Regions from separate parts of the Homo sapiens genome. Here regions 1 and 2 are each linked to region 3. The links come from fine-mapping of genetic effects on gene expression. A gene starts in region 3. Each other region holds a variant in brackets. All regions are shown on one strand. Distances are from middle to middle.

Region 1 (7,581 bases), 700 kb after region 3:
TTAAGGAAGGGTAAGTGTCATGCCTTGCAGTTACCAGACTGTTAAATATTGTGGGGCTGATTTGTTGATAAAATGGTTTGACAAGAGAGGACCAAAAACTGATTGCAACCTCTTTACCACTTTCCTGAGCCTAATATCAAGCAGTCATGTTTTGCCTTCCCCTATGTAATGGGTCAGTAATTCTGGAGAACAGTATTCTGATTTCTGTTTGGCGCTGCTAGGAGAGAACCAGCCTACGTTGCTGGCTACCTATGGACAATTTAGACAAGATGTGTCAAAGTACTTGACAATACACATGAATCCATTGGCTATGGCCCCATCAGTGTCTTCACTGTCCCCGCAAATGCGTATGCTTATGCCTCTGTTCACTTGTATCCCTGAAGGGCCTGCTCAAACTTTGCAATTCTTCCATTAAGCTAAACAAGCAGTTCTCTAGAGATGAATATATGTCCTTTATTTGGAAATGCTGATGCAAAATCAAAAGCCACATTAATTAAGTAGGATCTAGGTCAGTTGTTCTCAAGCTTGGCTACACATTTAGAATCATCTGGGGAGCTTTAAAAAAATCCAATTCCCAGGCAGCAAAAGCAGAGTTGGCAGGGAGTCAGGAGTAGGTCCCATTTATCAGTATTTTTTAAAGCTCCCCAGATGATTCCAGTGTACAGTAAGGTTGAGAACAACTGACCTAGGCCTTCTTAATGAGATATTCTGGGGACATTATATAGACATAGGGAATAAATAACTGCCTTGTTTGCTCTTAGCTGCTTCAAGAAACTAGTGTAAAATACCAATAAATACATTCCTAAATCTACTGGTAATATTAGGTAAACCTAGTTTCAGGAAGGTTCGAGATTGTCAGGACCCATAAAAAGATGAAGAAAGCCCAACAGAAAAGGAGACTATTATCTATTTGTCACTCACATGTAGGGTCCAGCCCAAGGGGCTTAGCGGGTGTTCTCCCCATGTGCGGAGACGAAAGATTGTAATAAATGAAGACACAAGACAAAGAGATAAAGAGAAAACAGCTGGGCCCGGGGGACCACTACCATCAAGACGCAGAGACCGGTAGTGGCCCCAAACAGCTGGGCTCGATGATATTTATTGCATACAAGACAAGGGGGCAGGGTAAGAAGGGTGAATCTTCTAAGTGATTGACAAGGTGAAGCAGGTCACATGATTACAGGATGGGGGGCCCTTCCCTTTTAGGTAGCCGAAGCAGAGGAGAAGGCAGCATACGTCAGTGTTTTCTTCTCTGCACTTATAAGAAAGATCAAAGACTTTAAGACTTTCACTATTTCTTCTACCGCTATCTACTATGAACTTCAAAGAGGAACCAGGAGTATGGGAGGAACATGAAAGTGGACAAGGAGCGTGACCACTGAAGCACAGCACCGCAGGGAGGGGTTTAGGCCTCCGGATGACTGCAGGCAGGCCTGGATAATATCCAGCCTTCCACAAGAAGCTGGTGGAGCAGAGTGTTCCCTGACTCCTCCAAGGAAAGGAGACTCCCTTTCGCGGTCTGCTAAGTAACGGGTGCCTTCCCAGACACTGGCGTTACCGCTTGACCAAGGAGCCCTCAAGCGGCCCTTATGCGGGCGTGACAGAAGGCTCACCTGTTGCCTTCTAGGTCACTTCTCACAATGCCCCTTCAGCACCTGACCCTATACCCGCCGGTTATTCCTAGGTTATATTAGTAATGCAACAAAGAGTAATATTAAAAGCTAATGATTAATAATGTTTATAATAATGATTGATAATTGTTCATGGTCATCTCTATATCTAATTTGTATTATGACTATTCTTATTCTAACTATTTTCTTTATTATACTGAAACAGTTTGTGCCTTCAGTCTCTTGCCTCAGCACCTAGGTAATCCTCCGCCCACACTCACAAATACATATGTCTTGACCATTTCTCTCTTCTGGCCTTCAGCTTTCTGCTGGACATAAACAACTGGATGTTTCACAGGCATGTTTATCTAAATGTAAGCTCAACATCTCCATTCCCCTACCTCTCCATTCCCTTGCCATAAGTTTGAATCTTCTCTAACGTCCTTATCTAAACAAATGGCATCACTGTCACACAATTGCCTGAGTTAGAAACTTAACTTACTCCTTCATCTTACTCCCCAAGTCTCCTTAACTTATTTTGGCCTCTCTTTCAATCCATTTTCTACACTGAGGCCAAAAATATTTTATAAAACACAGTGTATGTTAACACCTTCTTAAAACCCTTTAATTCACTGCCTCTGGAATAAAATTCAGATTCCTTAAAATGGGCCACAGAGACTTGCATGATTTGACCTTTACCCACATCTCCAACCCCATCTTGTGCCATCCTTCTTCTTGCGCTCTGTTCTCCAGCCAAACAGAACTTATTTTAGTCCCTTGAATGTGGTTTATTTGTTTTCCTCTGAGTAAACTCTCTTACATTCATGGCTGCAATCCCAGTGCCTACCACAGTCCCTGGTACAGAGTCAGCACCAGGAAGCATTTGTGGCATGTGTGTGCATGGGTGAGACAGTGAATATGTACTTAAAGCTTTAGACGTTCTCTTCCCTGGCAATGAGCTAATTCTCCAGCACGAATCTGTTGATTCAGAGCTATGAATCTTCTCCTGCCTTACCTGACTCTGTTTCCCTTGGCCTTAGATGGCAAACATGACTACACTTCCTGATGTTTCCCCACCAACTCTGGCCTTCCCCTTTTTTCCCTATCTCTTGTAATGAGATTCGTCTGCACTTCACTTTGCCTTCACAGTTCAGAAGGAAGGACCATCAGGATTCTTTGTTCACATTGAAGTGCTCTCTCTTTCCAGCATCACCTCAATGGTTTCCACCTGCCCTGCTTCATTAGCAGTTTTGTTTGGGTTCCCCACTAACCTAAAATAAAGCAATAAAGAAATAGTTGTGTCTGAAATGATCTTTCGAATAATAAACTGAGAATATCCTTTCAGCTCCACCATGACTCTGATTCTGATTCTCATTGAGCCTTTACTTTTGTAACAAGTGGGACTTTTCTGTTGTCCATTCCACCTGAAGCCCCAAAGCTGAGGTTGATGGGTATAAAGTGCCCATACATCTTAAAAAGAAGTTAGAGCTAACCTGTCCATGCAGGACTTCCTAAGGGGTAGCCCCAGACCAGCTCTGGACCCAAATGAGATGGGACCTATTGCCCATCTTTTGTCTGCATATAAGAGGGGGCTGTGAGGTTAATGAGGGAGAAGATTCTGTCTGTGTTTGAAGAGAGCTGTGTCAACTTGGCAGTAGGAACAGGAGGAAGGCTCTTCTTCTCCACTCCAAGCCCAGTGATAGGGTTCCTTGGCTCCAGAAACACTCTAGAGTATCAAAAGAGTTCTTGGGAAGCCTTGATATGTGCTGAAGTTTGGCAGGCACGGAGCCCAGTGCCTGGTTCTCATCTGGAAAGGTCTAATGAAGAGGCAGGCTGGAACTGTCCCTAACAGTTGAAAGAGGTGAGAGGGTGGTTGTATTATGAAATTATATCTCTACTAAGGGCAGAACAAAGATGCCTCTCTCTCCTGGGCTAGAGTAGTTACCACAACAGGTAACCAAGCTTTCAGTTATCTTTAAAGAATCATGTCCCAACAGAAAGAGACTGAGATATATATATCAATAGTATACGCTTAGAGGAGTTTCAAGTGGTCCACCAGAGTATACTGCCTGCCTAAGAAAACAGTATGACATGGGGGTTTCCAGCAGGAAAGCATTGGAAGAACCCACAAAAATGTCTGGCAAGAGAGGAGTCCATGATTTGGCATCACCCTCAGAGGGTGAACCAAAGCCATATTACACCACCACAGTCAATAAGTATGGTTGTCCCAATTATACCTTTCTTCTTTCCCTCTGCTCCTTCAGGAATTGGTAGGAAGAGAATTAAAAAAAAAACAAACAAAAATATGTAGCCTCTCCCCTCACTGCAGTTTTCTGATTTATGTCAAGCCTAAATTGTCCAAGATGTAAATCAAATTGG[A/G]TGAAAAACTAGTTTTTATATAAAATTGCCTGGACTTTTTAAAATCTGAAAATAAAATTGTTCATTATTATCTAAAAGCTAAGAAATCTGCTTTGAGAAGACGGACATTCACGGATAGGAAAGCAGGTTTCAAAGACAGTAGTAAAAATATAGTATGAAGTTGTTTTCTGTAGGTAACCCACAAAGTTGAATCATTTCACTTGCTCTCCTAAAATCTGAGAGGCGGGTGGAAGGGAAGGTTCTCCTTACACATGAAGTAAGCTTAGGAGGTAACATGCTAACTTTTTATCAAACATCTTAGAGCTTATATACCCAAATGAAGGAAGCTTTCTTCAAAAAAAGTCACTTCAGAAGGCTCTAGTTCTTTTATTGATGTTGCCTTTGCTGAAAATATCTGGAAATATCTCTTTAGGAATTGCTCTCCAAGTTTATAGCACATTCTTTGGTACCTTATCCATCACTAATCTTACCTGTTAGTGCTAAGCTGGATTTTTCAAAATAGACAAAAGTTATTTGATGCCAAAACTAATGAATAGGCTGGGTACGGTGGTTCATGCCTGTAATCCCAGCACTTTGGGAGGCTGAGGTGGGCAGATCACCTGAGGTCAGGAGTTCAAGACCAGCCTGGCCAACATGGTGAAACCCTGTCTCTACTAAAAATACAAAAATTAGTCGGGTGTGGTGGCACACGCCTATAATCTCAGCTACTTGGGAGGCTGAGGCTGGAGAATCGCTTGATCCCAAGAGGCGGAGGTTGCAGTGAGCAGAGATCACATCACTGCACTCCAGCCTGGGCGACAAGAGTGAAACTCTGCCTCAAAAAAAAAAATTAAAAATTCTAATGAATAAAGTGAATAATTAAACTGGGAAATTTCAGTTGGGGTGAAAAAAATCTCAGGTTATGACTATGAGGCAGATTTCTTCCATAACTTTTATTGGCTCAAAAGACAATTCCAATTTAAATATCCAAATGGTTATGAGTCATGGCAGTGTTATTTGAAGCACCAAGTGGGAAGGAACTTTAAGAATCAAATTGTCCTCCATTTCCTTGTAGGATAAAACAGATAGTAGTTGTCAGATCTTCAGAGCAGATGCCACCCATTCCTCCATATCATGGTTTTTGCCAGTTCTCATTGTGATGTCCTGGCATTTAAAAACTTATGTCTAACCCTATTTCTGTCACTTTTTAAACTGTAAATTTCTTATTGTCCTGAAAGGCTAAGTCATCTCCCAGCCTCCTTTTCTTAAGACAAAACAACAAGCACAGTTGTTGGATACCAACAAAAAGTCTGGTTAATTGCTCTCTGAGGACTGAGTGAAACTGTTTCACATCAGTAGAAAAAAATGAAAATGGTCATTTTGAAATTCAGATGACTATTAATGACCAACAAAATCAGCATGTTCTCCATCTGCATTTAAAGTCCCCATGAAAGGGTTCTCACGTTGGCTTTCATTGTTCTGTCCGATTTTCAAATTTCCAGAGTCTACCAAAGTCTGCCGGACAGCTTCCCAACTCCATCCATTACTTAGGGTGAGCAGTATTTACTGAGCTATCCCAGGCTTCATGCTTTGTTTCAGGAAATAGTCTTCCTCAGCTGACCCCATTGCTGGAGTGATCTAAGGTTTTCTTCTTTCTTGAATAGCAATCAGAACCACCTCTGAAAAAAATCAGACCCTAATTTCATCAAAGAGTTAACTGGTGTTTGGAACTATACAGGTCTATTCAATATAAAAAACATATGTTTAAAATTGACATTTGGACCAATTTTTGCATCCATTAGATCCCAGATTTAGAAGAATTGCATGTGATTAACGTTACGAAACATAAACACTGTGTTCCAATGACTCAAAAGAAAGCCAGGAAATTTTGTATTAAGGCATTATTCTATCTTCAAACTGTCCCATTGTGACTTCCATAAACACCTCCAAAAGCCTACCTTCTATAAAATTCTACTTTACGCTGTTTGAGCCTCAAATTATGGTGATGCTTCCTGACATTACAGCTGCTTCATTTGTAGTCCTCGCCATTGGCTGAAATCTTTGTTGCCCACACTGCCCTTGAATGCATCCAGCTTTGTAGCAGTCAAGGCCAAACTTCAGCTGGAAAGGGGTACCAGTTTGGATTCACAGACTCATAGAACATTGGCATTAGAAGGGATCTTAGAGATCATCCAGTCTCTACAACTGAGAAGATTGAGGCTCCAAGAAGACACATATCTAGTTCTAGTTCTTCAGTGAATATCAAAATAGAAAGGGATCAAAGTAAGCCCAGAGCATCTGTTAAAATGGAAATAGGCTCAGGCCCATGAAAGAGAAAGAATCAGGTCAGCCCTCATCCCTGAAAATCAGTAAGGCCAGAAGCAATAAAGGCCAAATAGACAAATAAAAGGAAGCTCTTCCAGGGTCTGCAGTCTATTCCCTGAATCCCAGAGAGAGAGAGAAGCTATTGTTCTGCCCTCTGAAAGGAAAGATGATAGAGGCTAAAAAAAGCTGATTATACCTGGAAGAATCTTTTGAAACCATCTTCTCCTACTCCTTTATTTTACAGAAAAGAAAGTGCAGCTCCAACAATTATTATTGGAGATTAATAGTGACACACTTGGACGAAAACTCTGTAACTTCAACTTCCAATCTGGTCTTCTTTACATTATGCTACAAGAGCTAATATTATTGAGTGTGTATTATGTATCAAGCACTATAATAATAATGCTTTACCCAAAATGTATTATTTAGTCCTCTCAGTAACCCCCTGAGGTAGGCATCTTTATCATCTTTGTTTTTTCAGATAAGTGAGGCAAAGGGTGCTTAAGGTATGGGCCCAAGATCACGAAGCAGAGGCAGAATTCAACCCAGGCTGGATTCAAGGGTCCATGAGTTTCCCATTCCCAACTCCCTTTATAGCAATAGGCATTTCAAGATTTCTGTGCTGGCCCTTTGTGTTGTAGGATCTGATGTACCTTCTCTATTTCTGAAGCTTCGTACATAACAAACAATTTGGGAGAGGTGTTGAAGAAATACTAGAGACTCCCAACATAGGAACAGGAGAGTTTTCTTCTCCAAGCTCTCAAAGAGCTTCTCAGCCCTAGCGATAGATTAGGGGTCTGTCATGTTAAACAGGCAAACATTGCACATGGCCTGGCTTAGGAAGGGCCCTCTTGAAATCCAGATAAAGAGTTCTGAATTAAACACATGAAAAAAATAGAAATAAGGACCTTCTGGGGCTAATTTACCTTAAAATATATTTGCTTGGTTTAAATGTCAATATGAAAAAACAACTAACAGTTATGGAGTACTTATAAGTATTAATTCATTTAATTCTCACAACAACCCTATGAGTTTAGGTATTATGATCCCCATTTGTGGATGAGGAAAATTGACACACAGAGAGATAAAGTAACTTGCTAAGGGTCACACAGTTGGTAAGCAAACAGTAGAGGGGAAATACAGAGTCACCAGGGGGCTTCCTGTGTTAAACTTTCACCTTAGATATCCAGAAAAATAGCTACTGTCTTTCTTATGTCACAGGATAGAGGTCAAAAAAAAGAAAAAGCCCACATGCCTGATAAGGCTGACATGTGGGAAAGATGAGAAA
Region 2 (7,581 bases), 220 kb after region 3:
GACCAGTAGAACCAAATACAGAACTTGGAAATAAGACCACACACCTACAACTGTCTGATCTTCGACAAACCTGATAAAAATAAGCAATGGGGAAAGGATTCCCTATTCAATAAATGGTGCTGGGATAAATGACTAGCAATATGCAGAAGATTAAAACTGGAACCTTTCCTTATACCATATATAAAAATTAAGATGGATTAAAGGCTTAAATGCAACACTCAAAACTTTAAAATCCCTGGAAGGCAACCTAGACAATACAATTTGGGACATAGGCACAGGCAAAGATTTCATGATGAAGATGCCAAAAGCAATTGCAACTAAAGCAAAAATTGACAAATGGGATCTGATTAAACTAAAGAGCTTCTGCACAGCAAAAGAAACTATTAACAGAGTAAATAGCCTACAGAATGGTAGAACATTTTTGCAAACTATGCATCCAACAAAGGTCAACTATCCAGCATCTACAAGGAACTTAAGCAAATTTATAGGAAAAAAACAAGCCCATAAAAAAGTGGGCAAAGGAAGTGAACAGAAACTTTTTTTTTAGTTTTTATCTATTTATTTATTTTAATTATACTTTAAGTTTTAGGGTACATGTGCACAACGTGCAGGTTAGTTACATATGTATACATGTGCCATGTTGGTGTGCTGCACCCATTAACTCGTCCTTTAACATTAGGTATATCTCCTAATGCTATCCCTCCCCTCTCCCCCCACCCCACAACAGGCCCCGGTGTTTGATGTTCCCCTTCCTGTGTCCATGTGTTCTCATTGTTCAATTCCCACCTATGAGTGAGAACATGCAGTGTTTGGTTTTTTGTCCTTGTGATAGTTTGCTGAGAATGATGGTTTCCAGCTTCATCCATGTCCCTACAAAGGACACGAACTCATTATTTTTTATGGCTGCATAGTATTCCATGGTGTATATGTGCCACATTTTCTTAATCCAGTCTATCATTGTTGGACATTTGGTTTCGTTCCAAGTCTTTTCTGTTGTGAATAGTGCCACAATAAACATACGTGTGCATGTGTCTTTATAGCAGCATGATTTATAATCCTTTGGATATATACCCAGTAATGGGATGGCTGGGTCAAATGGTATTTCTAGTTCTAGATCCCTGAGGAATCGCCACACTGACTTCCACAATGGTTGAACTAGTTGACAGTCCCACCAACAGTGTAAAAGTGTTCCTATTTCTCCACATCCTCTCCAGCACCTGTTGTTTCCTGACTTTTTAATGATTGCCATTCTAACTGGTGTGAGATGGTATCTCATTGTGGTTTTGATTTGCATTTCTCTGATGGCCAGTGATGATGAGCCTTTTTTCATGTGTCTTTTGGCTGCATAAATGTCTTCTTTTGAGAAGCATCTGTTCATATCCTTCGCCCACTTTTTGATGGGGTTGTTTTTTTCTTGTAAATTTGTTTGAGTTCATTGTAGATTCTGGATATTAGCCCTTTGTCAGATGAGTAGATTGCAAAAATTTTCTCCCATTCTGTAGGTTGGCTGTTCGCTCTGATGGTAGTTTCTTTTGCTGTGCAGAAGCTCTTGAGTTTAATTAGATCCCATTTGTCAATTTTGTCTTTTGTTGCCATTGCTTTTGGTGTTTTAGACATGAAGTCCTTGCCCATGTTTAAAAGAAGACATACATGCAACCGACAGTCGTGAAGAAAAGCTCAACATCACCAATCACTAGAGAAACGCATATCAAAACCACGAGATACCATCTCACACCAGTTAGAATGACGATTATTAAAAAGTCAAAAAATAACATATGCTGGTGAGGTTGTGGAGAAAACGGAACACTTATACACTGTTTGTGGGGGTGTAAATAGTTCAACCATTGTGAAAAACAGTGTGGCGATTCCTCAGAGACCTAAAGACAGAAATACCTTTCAACCCAGCAATCCCATTACTGAGTATATACCCAAAGGAATACAAAGCATTCTATTATGAAGACACATGCATGCACATGTTCATTGCAACACTATTCACAATAGCAAAGACATGGAATCAACCTAAGTGGCCATGAATGATACACTGGATAAAGAAAACATCATACATATACACCATGGAATGCAGCCATAAAAAGAATGAGATCATGTCCTTTGCAGGGACATGGATGGAGCTGGAGGCCATTATCCTTAGCAAACTAACACATGAATGGGGAGGACGGTGGCTTGCGAGGCTCGTTGCAGACAACTTGGTGGCAATGTCCACGAGCCAGGTGAGTGTGTGGCAGTAGCAGGGACTCGCGTGTGGCAGGGTGACCTGGGTTTTGGCCTCCCTCTGGTTCTCTGGAAGTGGGCCAGCAACCAGGGCGGGAGCAGCTGCAGAGGCAGAGGCTCCAGTGTGTCTCTCTCTGCCACCCCCTTAGCCTGAGCCAGGGAGGCCAGGCGGTCTGGGTGTCTGGAGGCAGGGTCCACTGCCCGAGAATGGGAATTCTCTTCACCAGGATATGGAGACTGTTCAATCACCAGGAGCACAAAAGTATCATTATTGGGCTGGATAGTGCAGGGAAAACTACCATCCTTTAACAGTTTTCTGTGAATGAAGTTGTACATACATCTCCTACAATAGGAAGTAATGTAAAAGAGATAGTGATTAATAATACATGTTTCCAGCTGGTAGCTCACGCCTGTAATCCCAGCGCTTTGGGAGGCTGAGGTGGGTGGATCACCTGAGGTCAGGAGTTTGAGACCAGCCCAGCCAACATGGTGAAGGCCCGTCTCTACTAAAAATACAAAAATTAGGTGGGCATGGTGGCACGCACCTGTAATACCAGCTACTCGGGAGGCTGAGACAGGAGAATTGCTTGAACCTGGGAGGCGGAGGTTGCAGTGAGCTGTGATCGTGCCAGTACACTCCAGCCTGGGTGACAAAGCAAGACTGTATCTCAAATAATAATAATAATCATAATCATAATAATATACATTTCCTAATGGAGGATATTGGTGGCCAAGAATCTCTTCGTTCTTCCTGAAACACTTACTATACTAACACAGAGTCTGTATAGTTGCTGTGAACAGTACAGACAGAGAGAGGATTTCTGTAACTAGAGAACTCTATAAAATGTTAGCACATGAGGACCTAAGAAAAGCTGGGTTACTGATTTTTGCTAATAAACAAGATGTTAAAAAATGCATAACTGTAGCAGAAATCTCCCAGTTTGTGAAGCTAACATCTATTAAAGATCACCAGTGGCATATCCAGGCATGCTGTTCTCTAACTGGTGAGGGATTGTGCCAAGGACTTGAATGGTTAATGTCACGACTTAAGATTAGATTATCTCTACTGACCTCTTCTCATAGACTTTGTATAAATGAAGTGCTAAACTTTACCTGAAAGCTGCAGCAATTAAAGATTTAGATATATTTATAATCAACTGATTTAAACTTTTTCTATGAGAAGAAAAAGTAAGACCACTTATTTGAAAACAAAGATGAAGTCTCACCTTCCAATCTGCTTTCTCATTAGTTTTTTCCAAAGTAAGTTATTAAAGCTGTGAATCACATTTTTCTCATAATGAATCCTCTCAGGACATTGTGTAGCCCCTGGTAAGTACAAAGGGAGAGGAAGACATTTTGAATTTTGAGAGCTTTATTATCAGTATAACCCTCCCTAGTTGAGTGTTATTCTCTTCTTGGTCCGTTAAGTCAAAATACAAATCAGCACAGATATTCAGTTTCCAGTATTTTAAAATATGT[T/C]ACATATGGGAAGTATTTTGCATAAGGTTGTATATGTATTGTGTATATACCTCAAGTTCAAGTTAATGGCTTTGATTTAAGTTCTAAAGAAAAGCAAATAACACAAATATTAATAATATCCTTAGGTATAACCATAATGAGATAAGTACTGGCATTGGTGTTAGGTGCCATTTTATACTTTCTCCCTATATTCTCTGTATTGTATTAACCAACCCTCCAAATCATTGAGCTGCTTGTTAAAAAAAAAAAGGAAAAGGAAAAAGCATGATATTGTGTATCTATTTTTTGTTGTTGACCAATCACACAGATGGAAACATAATTCAACAGAATGTGATAGCGATCAGATTCTTGGCTTAGTATTACTAATGGGCAGGATTGTACAATGAGTAATTATCAGATTATTACTTTCAATGGTTCTTATGGCATCTAAATTACTGAATAAATTTTTAATCCATTAATCAGTCTATCATAAATTGTGATTAAAATTATCAAATGAATTATCTGCATTAATTGGAAACTGTTGTGTGAAACATGTCTACTCAGAGAAATAATATTCTATAAATATTATAAAATAATTTAGCTATATTATTTTTAAGTATTAAATTATATGTCAAGCAGTTAAAGTGAATTTCAAAGTAAAAGTAAGGTATGTTTTCTGAACAACATTGATAATTCTTTAATTTGCAAAGTTCTTTTTTATTTTAGGACTGAGAATATAGTGTGAGATTTTTTATTTATGTAAAATTTGTTGTATCTTCTGTAATATAAATACATTGTTTGAGAATTATAAAATGCAAGCATTTTTGAATGCTTTTAAGAATTTCTTTTAAAGATTGATTGATACAATGTATTATTTGTACAAAGAAGTAACTTGACCCAAAATACTCTTTATGCTTGCTTAGAGCATTTTTTTTTTTTTTTTTTTTGAGATGGAGTCTTGCTCTGTCGCCAGGCTGGAGTGCAGTGGCATGATGTCAGCTCACTGCAACCCCTGCCTCTTGGGTTCAAGCAATTCTCCTGCCTCAGTCTCCCGAGTAGCTGGGACTACCAGCACATGCCACCATGCCTGGCTAATTTTTGTATTTTTAGTAGAGATGGGGTTTCACGACGTTGGCTAGGATGGTCTCTATCTCTTGACGTCGTGATCTGCCTGCCTCAGCCTCCCAAAGTGCTGGGATTACAGGCTTGAGCCACCACGCCCAGCCTGTATATCTTTCATGGCTTGAAAATCTGAAGGTTAATCCAAACTGATACGTTTTAGCATATTTAAGAAAAAAAAACTAAATTTCAGCCTTTTAAATTTCAAGAAGATTTTATTGAATAATAGTACATACTATAAGTATTGATCCAACTTTGAAAGTTCCTTTCTGTAAAATGTGAAATACTCAATATCTAAATCTAGATCAGGCATAGGAGATCAGTATTTAACATTGGATGTTTTGTGTTTCATATTTATAATGTTCAAAATGCAAGCATAACATTTAATATTTGTCTACATGGTTTTACAAAAGTAAATCCTAAATTACCACCCCACCAAAAAAAAACCTAACACAGGAACAGAAAACTAAATACCACATGTTCTCATTTACAAATGGGAACTAAATGATGAGAACACATGGACACATAGAGAGGAACACAACACACATTGGGGCCTACAGAGGGGTTGAAGGGTGGGAGGAGGGAGAGGATCAGGAAATATAACTGATGGGTACTAGGTTTAATACCTGGGTGATGAAATAATCTGTACAGCAAACCCCCATGACACAAGTTTAAATATGTGACAAACCTGCACATGTACCCCTGAACTTAACAGTTAAAAAAAAAGACTGATGATTACCGACTTGTCAGTGTTCTGAAATTGTGCAATTAATATTCATCCTCAAGAGAATTTTGTGTCTATTCTCGAGTATTTGACTAATATTTTATTGATTCTTGGCTGGTAAGGGCTAGGATGGGAAAGGAATCCTAGATTCTTAGAGTTAGATGGCTTCTCAGAGGTTATCTGAGCTAATCTACTACCTTGATTTCCCTTTTCAGTAAAGCTGCCAAATTGTTAACCAGGTTTTGCTTAAGCACTTCCAGAATAGGTTGGCCTCTCATACCATGAAGTTGCCCAGTCATCTTTGAATTTACTTAAGAAGTTATGCCTCTAAAAACAAGTTCTTATCTTTATCTATATACTGCCTCTCTTAAAATTTCTGCCCATTTATGGTAATTCTGATCTCTGGAATCAATAGGAGTCAAGTAAATCCCTCTTTCACAAGGCTGCAATTCATGAGCCTGCTTTTTCCCAAGCTCAGGAAAGTATATCATTAACATTATTATTGCTTCTAGGCAAAGGTGAAGATTCTCAAACAGGCTGATTTCATGGTCATTTTTCCCCAAGTATGTTTTATTTACCTTTTATAATGTTTTATGCTAAAGGATTTTCAAAGATAAAAAAATAGAAAATAAACACATTTAATTTACTTCAGGTCTTTTGGCTTTCCAAAACAATGATTGCTACAAGTTTCATTTGATGTCCTCTTTAAGCACAGTAAATCATCTCATTCCTTAAAGAATCTCACTGAGTTTTAGATTATTGGTTTATTGGAGAACAGCTGTGGTCACAACAGAGCGGATTCTAAGGGTCTGCTGTTAGGAATTAAACTAGCTAATTGTTCCCAAACAATGGTCTGTAAATGAATTTCAGTCTATGAAGCTTTTAGCAACTTGGGACAAAATAAGAACCAAGTGACAAGTTTTTATGAAACTAAATTTATTTAATTTTTAAGTTCCAAGTTTATGTCCTTCCTACGTTTTTGTTATTGAAGTTATGAAATGATGTTGATAATTAATGGTAGTTGCTATTTTAAATGTCTTTGTTTTGCAAAAGCAAATGACTATGAAAAAAATGAGCAACTCTATTTTGGTGCCCTGATATTTTTCTTTTTGAAATATTACTGGTCCTGAAATCCCTAAGTATGTGAATCACTGGCTTAGATGCTGTTTGTCTCCTCCCAGGGTTAACATTTCTATAGTCTATGAATTGTGGTTTAATCAGACTTGGACATGAAACCCCTATGGAAACCAGGTGCTACAGGAACTGAAGTTTGGAATTCTACAAGAAACTGGCTGCCTTTTCCCTCTGGTCCACTGTTGAATCAGTACTTCCAGATGGTGGCAAGGAAATGTGGCTGCCAGTAGTAACCCGGCTCTGGAGGGAGACTGAATGCTATCCCTGATGTTCAGTCCTGCTTTTTGTTTGTTTGTTTGTTTTTTGAGACTGGATCTCAGTCTGTCATCCAGGCAGGAGTGCAGTGGTGCAGTAATAGCTCATTGCAGCCTCAAACTCCTGGGCTCATGCAATTCACCCACCTCAGCCTCCTGAGTAGCTAGGCCTACAGGGCATGTACCAGCATGCCTGGCAATGTTTTTTTTTTTTTTTTTTTTTTTTTTTTGTAGACACTGGGCCTTGTTATGTTGCCCAGGCTGGTTGTGAACCCCTGGCTTCTAGCGATCCTCCTACCTCAGCTTTCCAGAGTGCTGGGATTATAGTTGAGCCACTGTGTCTGGCCTCAGTTCTCTTTTAATAGCCTTCAGAACATTTCTAAAAGCTTTTGCACTGAAAAACTACATAATTGAACCAAAAATGCAGATTTTCATAATTCCCCTCAACTGTTGCAAAGTTTTTGGTTCAAACTTGACACAGCAGCAGGAACTTTCAGGTTGAAGTTATGAAAGTGGTTTCAGTTAATAGTAAATTGCAATTCTACAATAATGGATGTTTTTAGAAATAGGACTGAACTCTGTTGTGACAATAAAGGGATCATTTAAGAAAAGCTTATCAAAACTATCTTCAGGGGTGCTTCATTTTATTTCCATTTTAGTCCC
Region 3 (7,581 bases):
GAGCCACTGCACCTGGCCGGGATTTTTCATAAAGCTAAATTTACTCAGTTTAAACAACTGCTCTTTATTTTGACATGTCATTTTAGCTTTTGTTCAGATGTTAAAATTTTCCTTTCTTTTGGAAAGTAATAGAGATAAGTAGTTGACAGTTTTTATTAAGGTCCTTACTAGATAATATAAAAAGTTGACAAACGGGGCTGGGCGTGGTGGCTCATGCCTGTAATTCCATCACTTTGGGAGACTGAGGTGGGTGGATTGCCTGAGCTCAAGAGTTTGAGACCAGCCTAGGCAACACGGTGAAGCCCCGTCTCTACTAAAATACAAAAAATTAGCTGCGCGTGGCGATGTGCGCCTGTAGTCCCAGCTACTTGGGAGGCTGAGGCAGGAGAATTGCTTGAACCCCGGAGGTGGAGGTTGCAGTGAGCCGAGATCGTGCCACTGCACTCCAACCTGGGCGACAGAGCGAGACTCTGTCTCAAAAAAAAAAAAAAAAAAAAAAAAAAAAACCTTGACAAACATTATGTCCACTCCTCCCCATTAACTAATATTTATTTTGAAAAAACAAAGTCTAGAAATCACTGAATCAGTTAATCTTCACGTTTTCTTACAGTTCTGGGAACCTGGGCTCTTAGATATCAAAGCAATTTATCTATGAAGACCATTCAGTAGACACTAAGCAGAGCGTTTCCAAGGAGACATCAGTGCATCTAGTTCCTGAGAGTTCATATTTTATTTTTTAATTTTAATTTTACTTTTTATTTTTTTGAGACAGAGTCTTGCTCTTGTCACCCAGGCTGGAGTGCAATGGCTCCATCTTGGCTCACTGCAACCTCCTCCTCCCAGGTTCAAGCAATTCTTCTGTCTCAGCTTCCTGAGTAGCTGGGATTACAAGTGCCCACCACCATGCCCAGCTAATTTTTATATTTTTAGTAGAGACGGGGTTTCACCATGTTGCCAGGTTGGTCTCGAACTCCTTACCTCAGGTGATCCGCCTGCCTTGGCTCCCAAAGTGCTGGGATTACAGATGTGAGCCACTGTGCCTGGCCTGACAGTTCATATTTTATACAGAGGCCCAATACTTGTCTTCTAGGAAGTTACAATCTAAGACAAAACAGAGATGCAGATTGCTGTCACCTAGCACACAGAAGATAGGATAGAAACATCAATCTAATATACTGATTACTAATGAACTACTTACAGCATATTAATAGATAAGAGGCAAGACAAAAACCATGATATGGTATATGTGTGGCAGCTATTTGCAGAGTATCTCTGGAGATCTAAACCCAAACTAAACCAAAGCACCAAACAATCAAATCATCTTAGAGACCAACGAGGGCTAACCTCTTAAATATCAGTTATTTCTTTCCCCTGATGTCCTCTATAGAATGACTTAGAATTTCAATGGCTAGACTAGAGAAATGGTTTTCATCAGGAATTAAGAAAACAAGCACTTTGTTTTGTTGGTTTTGATTTTAATACCACATACAGATTCTGATGAAAACATTAAATACTACTTAGTTAGGCCAATAAACCATTATAGAGTAGTTAGGTCAGTAAGCAAAAATGGTGAAAATTCATAATTATGTGCATTCTCATTATACTCAAGTTCATTCTTGGTCACAAGAATAGGTATTTTTGAAAGGTATTAATTATAGACATCTAGTGGATATACGTATTCAAATTGTCTTCCATTGGTCCCAATTAACATGGCTTCTAAAAGTGCATTCACTTGTAAGCCAAGGGTATTTTAGGCCCTTGGAAAATCTGGCTCATTGTTAAAAATATATAATTTTAAAAATTCTTAGTATAGCAAATGAACTAATGGCTTTACACGTTAAGTATTTTTTGAAGGAGATGGCCAGGAAAATGTTAATAACTGGGAAAACAAATTATTGAACAGAGACCCAAAACATAATTTACTATGACAAATAAAAGTATTTATTTTTCACATTGTTCTGGAGAGGGGCATATTATTTCAGTGTGTTGAGCATGATTGGATTTACCATTAATTTACTTCACAGAATTTATTGAGTGCCTACTAAGTGCTCCAGTCTGGGAACACAAAGGCAAAAGTGTTTGCCCGCCAGGCTGTTGCCATCTCTAAGAGGTGCTCAATACATACTTAAAAATTACAAGAATTTCGACTGAAATTTATGTCACACCACACACCCATACACAGACACACACACACAGTTTAAAGGATCTAGATGTCTTAGAAATGTTCAGGAACTGAAGGAAACAGGCCTTAGGGCTGGAGCCAACATCCAATACTTCACTATGTAACAGCTTGATTTAAAAAAATCATCTTTAAATAATATGACTTGCATTTGCTTTCTCCCATATCCTCATCTTATGCAGTCCTATTTCTAGAAGGTCGTCATGGCGCTTCACAGATGAATGCAACATAATCTCGATTTCCTGGGTGCTTAGGTTGGTAGAGGCTTTTCAGGGAACTTCAGTTGAAGGTCATCTATTCCAGCTGTTTTCAGATTTGTTAATCCTGGTCTGGGTGGAGGTAAGAGGATACAGGTTGCTATTACAGCGTTTGCTGGGCTTTAAGACTAACCCTTGTCCATCCACTTCTGGGGAAAACCCTTGCTCTGCATTTTAGGGTTTTGCTTGTTTGATACCAAGGAGGGCCCTGGACGCTTCTGCGTTTCTGACTGCCCGCACTACATAAAGTAGTTCCCTTCATCTGCCAAGTAGAAGTCCCATTTTGTCTCAGAAAGAAGCCGAAAGTGGGGCCCAGCAATGTGACTGCAGCAAACTGTGCCTGATCCCTTTCCCGCGCTTCAGGATAGGACCTAGAGTTCAATTTGCAAGCTGTTGTGGGGTGGAAGCTCAATGAGCAGCGGCGGGTCGTGCATCACAGCGGCTTCCGGCTGTTATTCCCCATCCAGGGCTATGTGACTCTGGTTTTGACTGGGGGCCGAGATGGAAACCCGAAAGTGTCACTATGGTCCCATCTGGCACTGTAAAGGCGCACTTCCCTGCAGGAGGGCTAAGTATAGGATTGACCTCCAGGAGGGTCTGGAGGGGGGACTCTACCTGTGCAGCAGAATAGAGTGGCCAAGAAGTGGCACAGTTGGACGCAGAGCCGCCCTGACTATCCAAGCACAGCTCAGGTAGCTTCGACTTGGCCAAAGCCAGCATGTATTGACGCTCCCAAGACGCTTATTCCTCGGTTGCGGGAAGAGCAGAGCAGAGCGAGGGCGCATGTCCCTTTTGGCCCTCGGATCGGAAAAGCTGCTTGACCAGGTCACTATGTTTTTCCTTCTTGCTACTCTTTGCCCTATGGAGGTCAGAGGATGCTTCGGTGTGGCTATCCAACGCGTCACAGAGATCAGGGCTCCTCTTCGGGGAATGTCCTTCAGGGCTCTATGCTTTGACAGGAATCACCGCCTCAAGACCCCTCTGCAACTTAACCGCCCTTGGTATTGCTGCTTCAACCAGAAAAGGGCCCTGAGCGGACGAAGTGCCTGACGCTGTCAGGAGAAACAAGCGTGCTGTCGGTGGGAACTCTATCCCAGCGCGTCCCGGGTTGGCGCTGGGGCTTTCGGGTCGGAGTCGGAGCTTGAACCGCCCTCCAGAGCCTCTCAGGGAAGGACGTAAAAACGAGACCCTTTGCTCTGTACCCAGACGGTACAACGGCATGGTTTGGATTCCTCCCTCTGCTTCCTGACCCTAGAGGGTTAAATTAGGAGGGTACAACGCCACCCTTTTCTCCTCCTTCCCGCCTGCTCCCCTCCCCTTACCTTTAAAAAGTTAAAAAATGTCTGCAGTAGAAATCTCTTAAAGGGGCGGTGCCGGTGTACGAGTTCTCTTGGCAAGAGTCACGGGGAAGGCTGGCTAGGGGCGTGAGTTCGCTCCACCAGCACCAAAACACTGAAAAAAAAAATTAAAAAAAATTAAAAAAAAAAAAGAAAAAAACAAAACGAGCGAGCGAGCGAGCGAGAGAGAGAGAGAGCGGGAGAGAGAGAGAGTGTGTGTGTGTTGGGGGGGTGGTGGGAGGAAGGGAAAAAAAGGGGGGAAAAAGGCGGACAGACACACACTTTAGATAAGGACAATTAGTCACTAGCGAGACCCAGTAGGAAGAGAGGTTTAAATCAGAGGGATTGAATGAGGGTGCTTTGTGCCTTCCCTGAAGCCATGCCCTCCAGCAACTCCCGCCCCCCCGCGTGCCTAGCCCCGGGGGCTCTCTACTTGGCTCTGTTGCTCCATCTCTCCCTTTCCTCCCAGGCTGGAGACAGGAGACCCTTGCCTGTAGACAGAGCTGCAGGTTTGAAGGAAAAGACCCTGATTCTACTTGATGTGAGCACCAAGAACCCAGTCAGGACAGTCAATGAGAACTTCCTCTCTCTGCAGCTGGATCCGTCCATCATTCATGATGGCTGGCTCGATTTCCTAAGGTAAGGCAGGGGTTTCGATGGATCATTTAAAATTTTTTAGTAACACCCCCTCAAGCCCTTCCTATCCCCCATTCCAAAGGGGAAAGAAGAAAATAAGCCAAGCAGATCTCTCAAAGAGAAGAAAAGAGGTTTTCCTTCTCCTGGATTGTGTGCTGTGAGGCTGTAACTAGTGATTGAGAAAAGCAATGTTTTCTATTAAGATGCACATGTTTGCAATGCAGAAGGCATTTCAGAAACTTATCAGTTATGACTGAAAAAATGTTGTGCTTACATATATCCACAATTAGCCTTCCCGTCTACTTCTGAAAAAGAAACAAGAGGTTCAGAGCAGTTACAAAAGCGAAGAAAAGGTCTCAAACAACAAAGAGCTGAAAGGAATGGGTATGTGTGTGTGTGTGTGTGTGTGTGTGTATGTGAGACAGGAGAGTGTGTGTGTGTGAGTGTTCAAGCGGGATTGCACGAAACTGGAATTTTCCACGGAAAGATCGTTTCGTCAGTTCTCTCCCACTCTCAGAAAACGAATTTAAGCAGAGGCTTGAGTGGTGGGCAAGTTGGATCGGAGTTAAAATTTTTTATTTTATATCCTCCGCTGTCATTTCCAGACTTCAGGACTTTGTAAGGCGCTTTTTATAGACGGAATGCCCCCCTCCCCCCGCCAGTTCCTCCTCCTTAAATCTCCTGCGGTAACTGCACAGTTTAGCTTTTCTTTAAAGGAAAAAAAAAATCCTCGCTGGGGTCACAGCGTTATAAGGGAAGCGGTAAGAGTCCTAGAAATACTCCAGGGAGGCTTCGGAGATCTGAACTCCGCACCAGCAGATTAGCAAACCCGGAGGTTTGTGATCCCCTTTGCTCTAGGGCTTGTAATCTAATTGGGCTCACACTCTTCCCGGGTTGTTGCAGTTTGGCAGTTAGGCAACTGCGATCCCTTCCCATCAGGGACAGAGTTGCAGTGTAAAATAAGAAATAAATCCTCTGCAATGTCGAATCCAAGTGTTGAGTTTTTAAAAATTCCCTACAAGTTGGAGCCTCAGCTGTGGGTTCCCCTCGAAGAGCCCTCAGCGCTCTCAGTCCCACTTTGCCCCGAGGCCAGGTCCGTTGTGCGTCCTTCGTATTTTTCACTCCTTGCGAAATTCGAGTTTTGCTTCTTGAGGTGCGCCCGCCTCTCAGCTCTTGGGGTTGTCCCCCTGGCCCGGGTCGGGTCTGCGGACGCGGCAGGTAGCGGGAGGCGCCACGTGGAGCGCTCCTTCCACGTGGAGGAAAGGTAGCCGGAGGACTGAGAGGCTGTAGCTGCCCTTGCCGAGGCCGTTTCGGTTCCTGTTGGTGCGGTTGCCGCGAGGGCGGAACAGCCAGCTCCGCGCGGCCCAGCTTCCTCTTCGAAAGCTCTTTCGTGCAGCAGAGCGCGTCTATGAGCTCGTCCGAATGTAGGGTGCAACGGAGTTTTCCGCAACGCTTGTCCCACTTTCATTGAACTCCTTCAGCTGCGCAGACCCCCTTTCCCCCACCAGCTTTCTTTCTTTTTTTAAAAAATCTGCCTGTTCGCCTAATGCTTTCCTGCCTCAGAAAAGAGTCTGGAAGGCAGATTTTCGGGGAAGAAGTCCTGGCGGGGCGCATTCGCATTGGCTGTGCAGGCTTCTGGATGAAAGGTTGTTGGAACTGCCCTTTCCCCAGGACCGGATTCGCGCGGACGTCTCCTTTGCCACAGTAGGCCCACGCGACGCCCTGACTGTGCCTGTCCTGGAGTGCGGTCCCGGAGACTTCTGCCAAACGACCATTCTGGTTACAAGACCCTGGGGTAGCCACGTCTCTTCTCAAAAAACTCTCCAAAAGCAGAGTCTGTTTTTTCTTTCTCGTATCCACCTCCTTTATGATGCTCTTTAACGTCACCATGTGGATTTGGGTTTTCAGAATCTGAAACAGTAAAGCGTTAAAAAATAATTTACAGACCCGGAACTCAACAGCTGATCCCCTCTGCATTATCAGTATCTGCATTGCTCCTTTTCTACTCCTTCCCAAAGCAGCAGCCTTTGGCTTTTAAAAAACCTATTGATGGAAATCCTGACCTTAAATAGATGCAAATGCTATTGTTTTGTGCTCATTTAGTATCCCATAACGCGCAGGTTCCACATTTCGGCAAGCTTCATTTTCCCTAGCGGTTCCAAACGGCCCCAAGTGGGAAAGAAGAAAGATGGAGCCTAACTCGGGGGTGGGGTGGGGAGGAGGATGTTACCTTTCCTGAGATCAGGCGGAATTATTTCAGGGGCCAAAGAGACTTTGCCTTTACTGTGTGTGTGTGTGGTGGTGGTGGTGGTGGTGCGGGAGTGGAGAAGTGTTCTTGGAAAGGCGAGGGTTTACCCTGGGGATCTCTCCGTCCGGGGATTTGGGAAACAATGCAGTTTTTACAATATAGTGAAAAAGGAAAATCAACTCGGACATTAAAAGAAAGAAAGTAGGAATCCACTTAAGCTCAGGCGCCGGGCCTGGTCTGAGAGAAACAAGGCAGGTTTCACCTCCTGCACGGAGGTTTGTGGGGCCCCTGGGGCTGCGGAGGCAATGCCGGCTTTCAGCATACAAGTTTTTGGCAACGGTCGGAAGCCAGAGGTAGGCGCGCCTAGCGCGTCTCCGCCCGGAGCGCTTTCCTGGCAGTGGCAGAAGCCGGGCAACTGCGCTTTAGCGCCGTGCTCGTAGCACGTACACCCACCCCATACAAACACTCTATGAACAAACACTATCTGTAGCCTTTAGGAGATCAGGATCTGGGTGTCTGCGGGAGGGGGCCGCTGCGGGCGTCTGGAAGCGGGAGGCACAGCCCCCAGAGCCGGGCGGTGAGGGCGGGCTGGGGCGCAGGGCAGCGGCCAAGGGCCAGCGTGGACTGCCGGCTGGGGCAGGCACAGAGCCTCTAGCCCCGGCCAGGTCGCCCTCAGGGAGTAGGAAGAGGGCCCTTCTCCGTGCCCCACGCGCTCTCGTCCTGTCCTGGGAACCTTTCCTCTCTTATTCTCTTCCTCTGCAGCTCCAAGCGCTTGGTGACCCTGGCCCGGGGACTTTCGCCCGCCTTTCTGCGCTTCGGGGGCAAAAGGACCGACTTCCTGCAGTTCCAGAACCTGAGGAACCCGGCGAAAAGCCGCGGGGGCCCGGGCCCGGATTACTATCTCAAAAACTATGAGGATGGTGA

What was found. PIP is the estimated chance that this variant, and not a neighbour inherited with it, causes the effect. A credible set is the group of variants that fine-mapping cannot tell apart.
Region 1: its variant is the best candidate, but not a certain one, in a credible set for the expression of HPSE2 in whole blood (TOPMed, PIP 0.61).
Region 2: its variant is the best candidate, but not a certain one, in a credible set for the expression of HPSE2 in lung (TOPMed, PIP 0.53).

What each region holds. Positions count from the first base shown.
Region 1 is chr10:98,531,648-98,539,228 of GRCh38, reverse strand. All of the region lies in intron 9 of HPSE2 (heparanase 2 (inactive)), which reads left to right. Among named protein-coding and RNA genes, the nearest start is that of HPS1, 89 kb to the right of the region's middle. The variant A/G (reference allele first, on the strand shown) is at 3,990.
Region 2 is chr10:99,008,808-99,016,388 of GRCh38, reverse strand. All of the region lies in intron 3 of HPSE2 (heparanase 2 (inactive)), which reads left to right. It also overlaps the pseudogene ARL5AP2. Among named protein-coding and RNA genes, the nearest start is that of MIR6507, 88 kb to the right of the region's middle. The variant T/C (reference allele first, on the strand shown) is at 3,709.
Region 3 is chr10:99,232,344-99,239,924 of GRCh38, reverse strand. HPSE2 (heparanase 2 (inactive)) reads left to right here and starts at 4,073. Exons shown (of 12, transcript NM_021828.5): 1 at 4,073-4,412; 2 at 7,420-7,577. The coding sequence starts at 4,123. RefSeq lists enhancers at 2,495-2,995, 2,996-3,496 and a silencer at 5,644-5,763.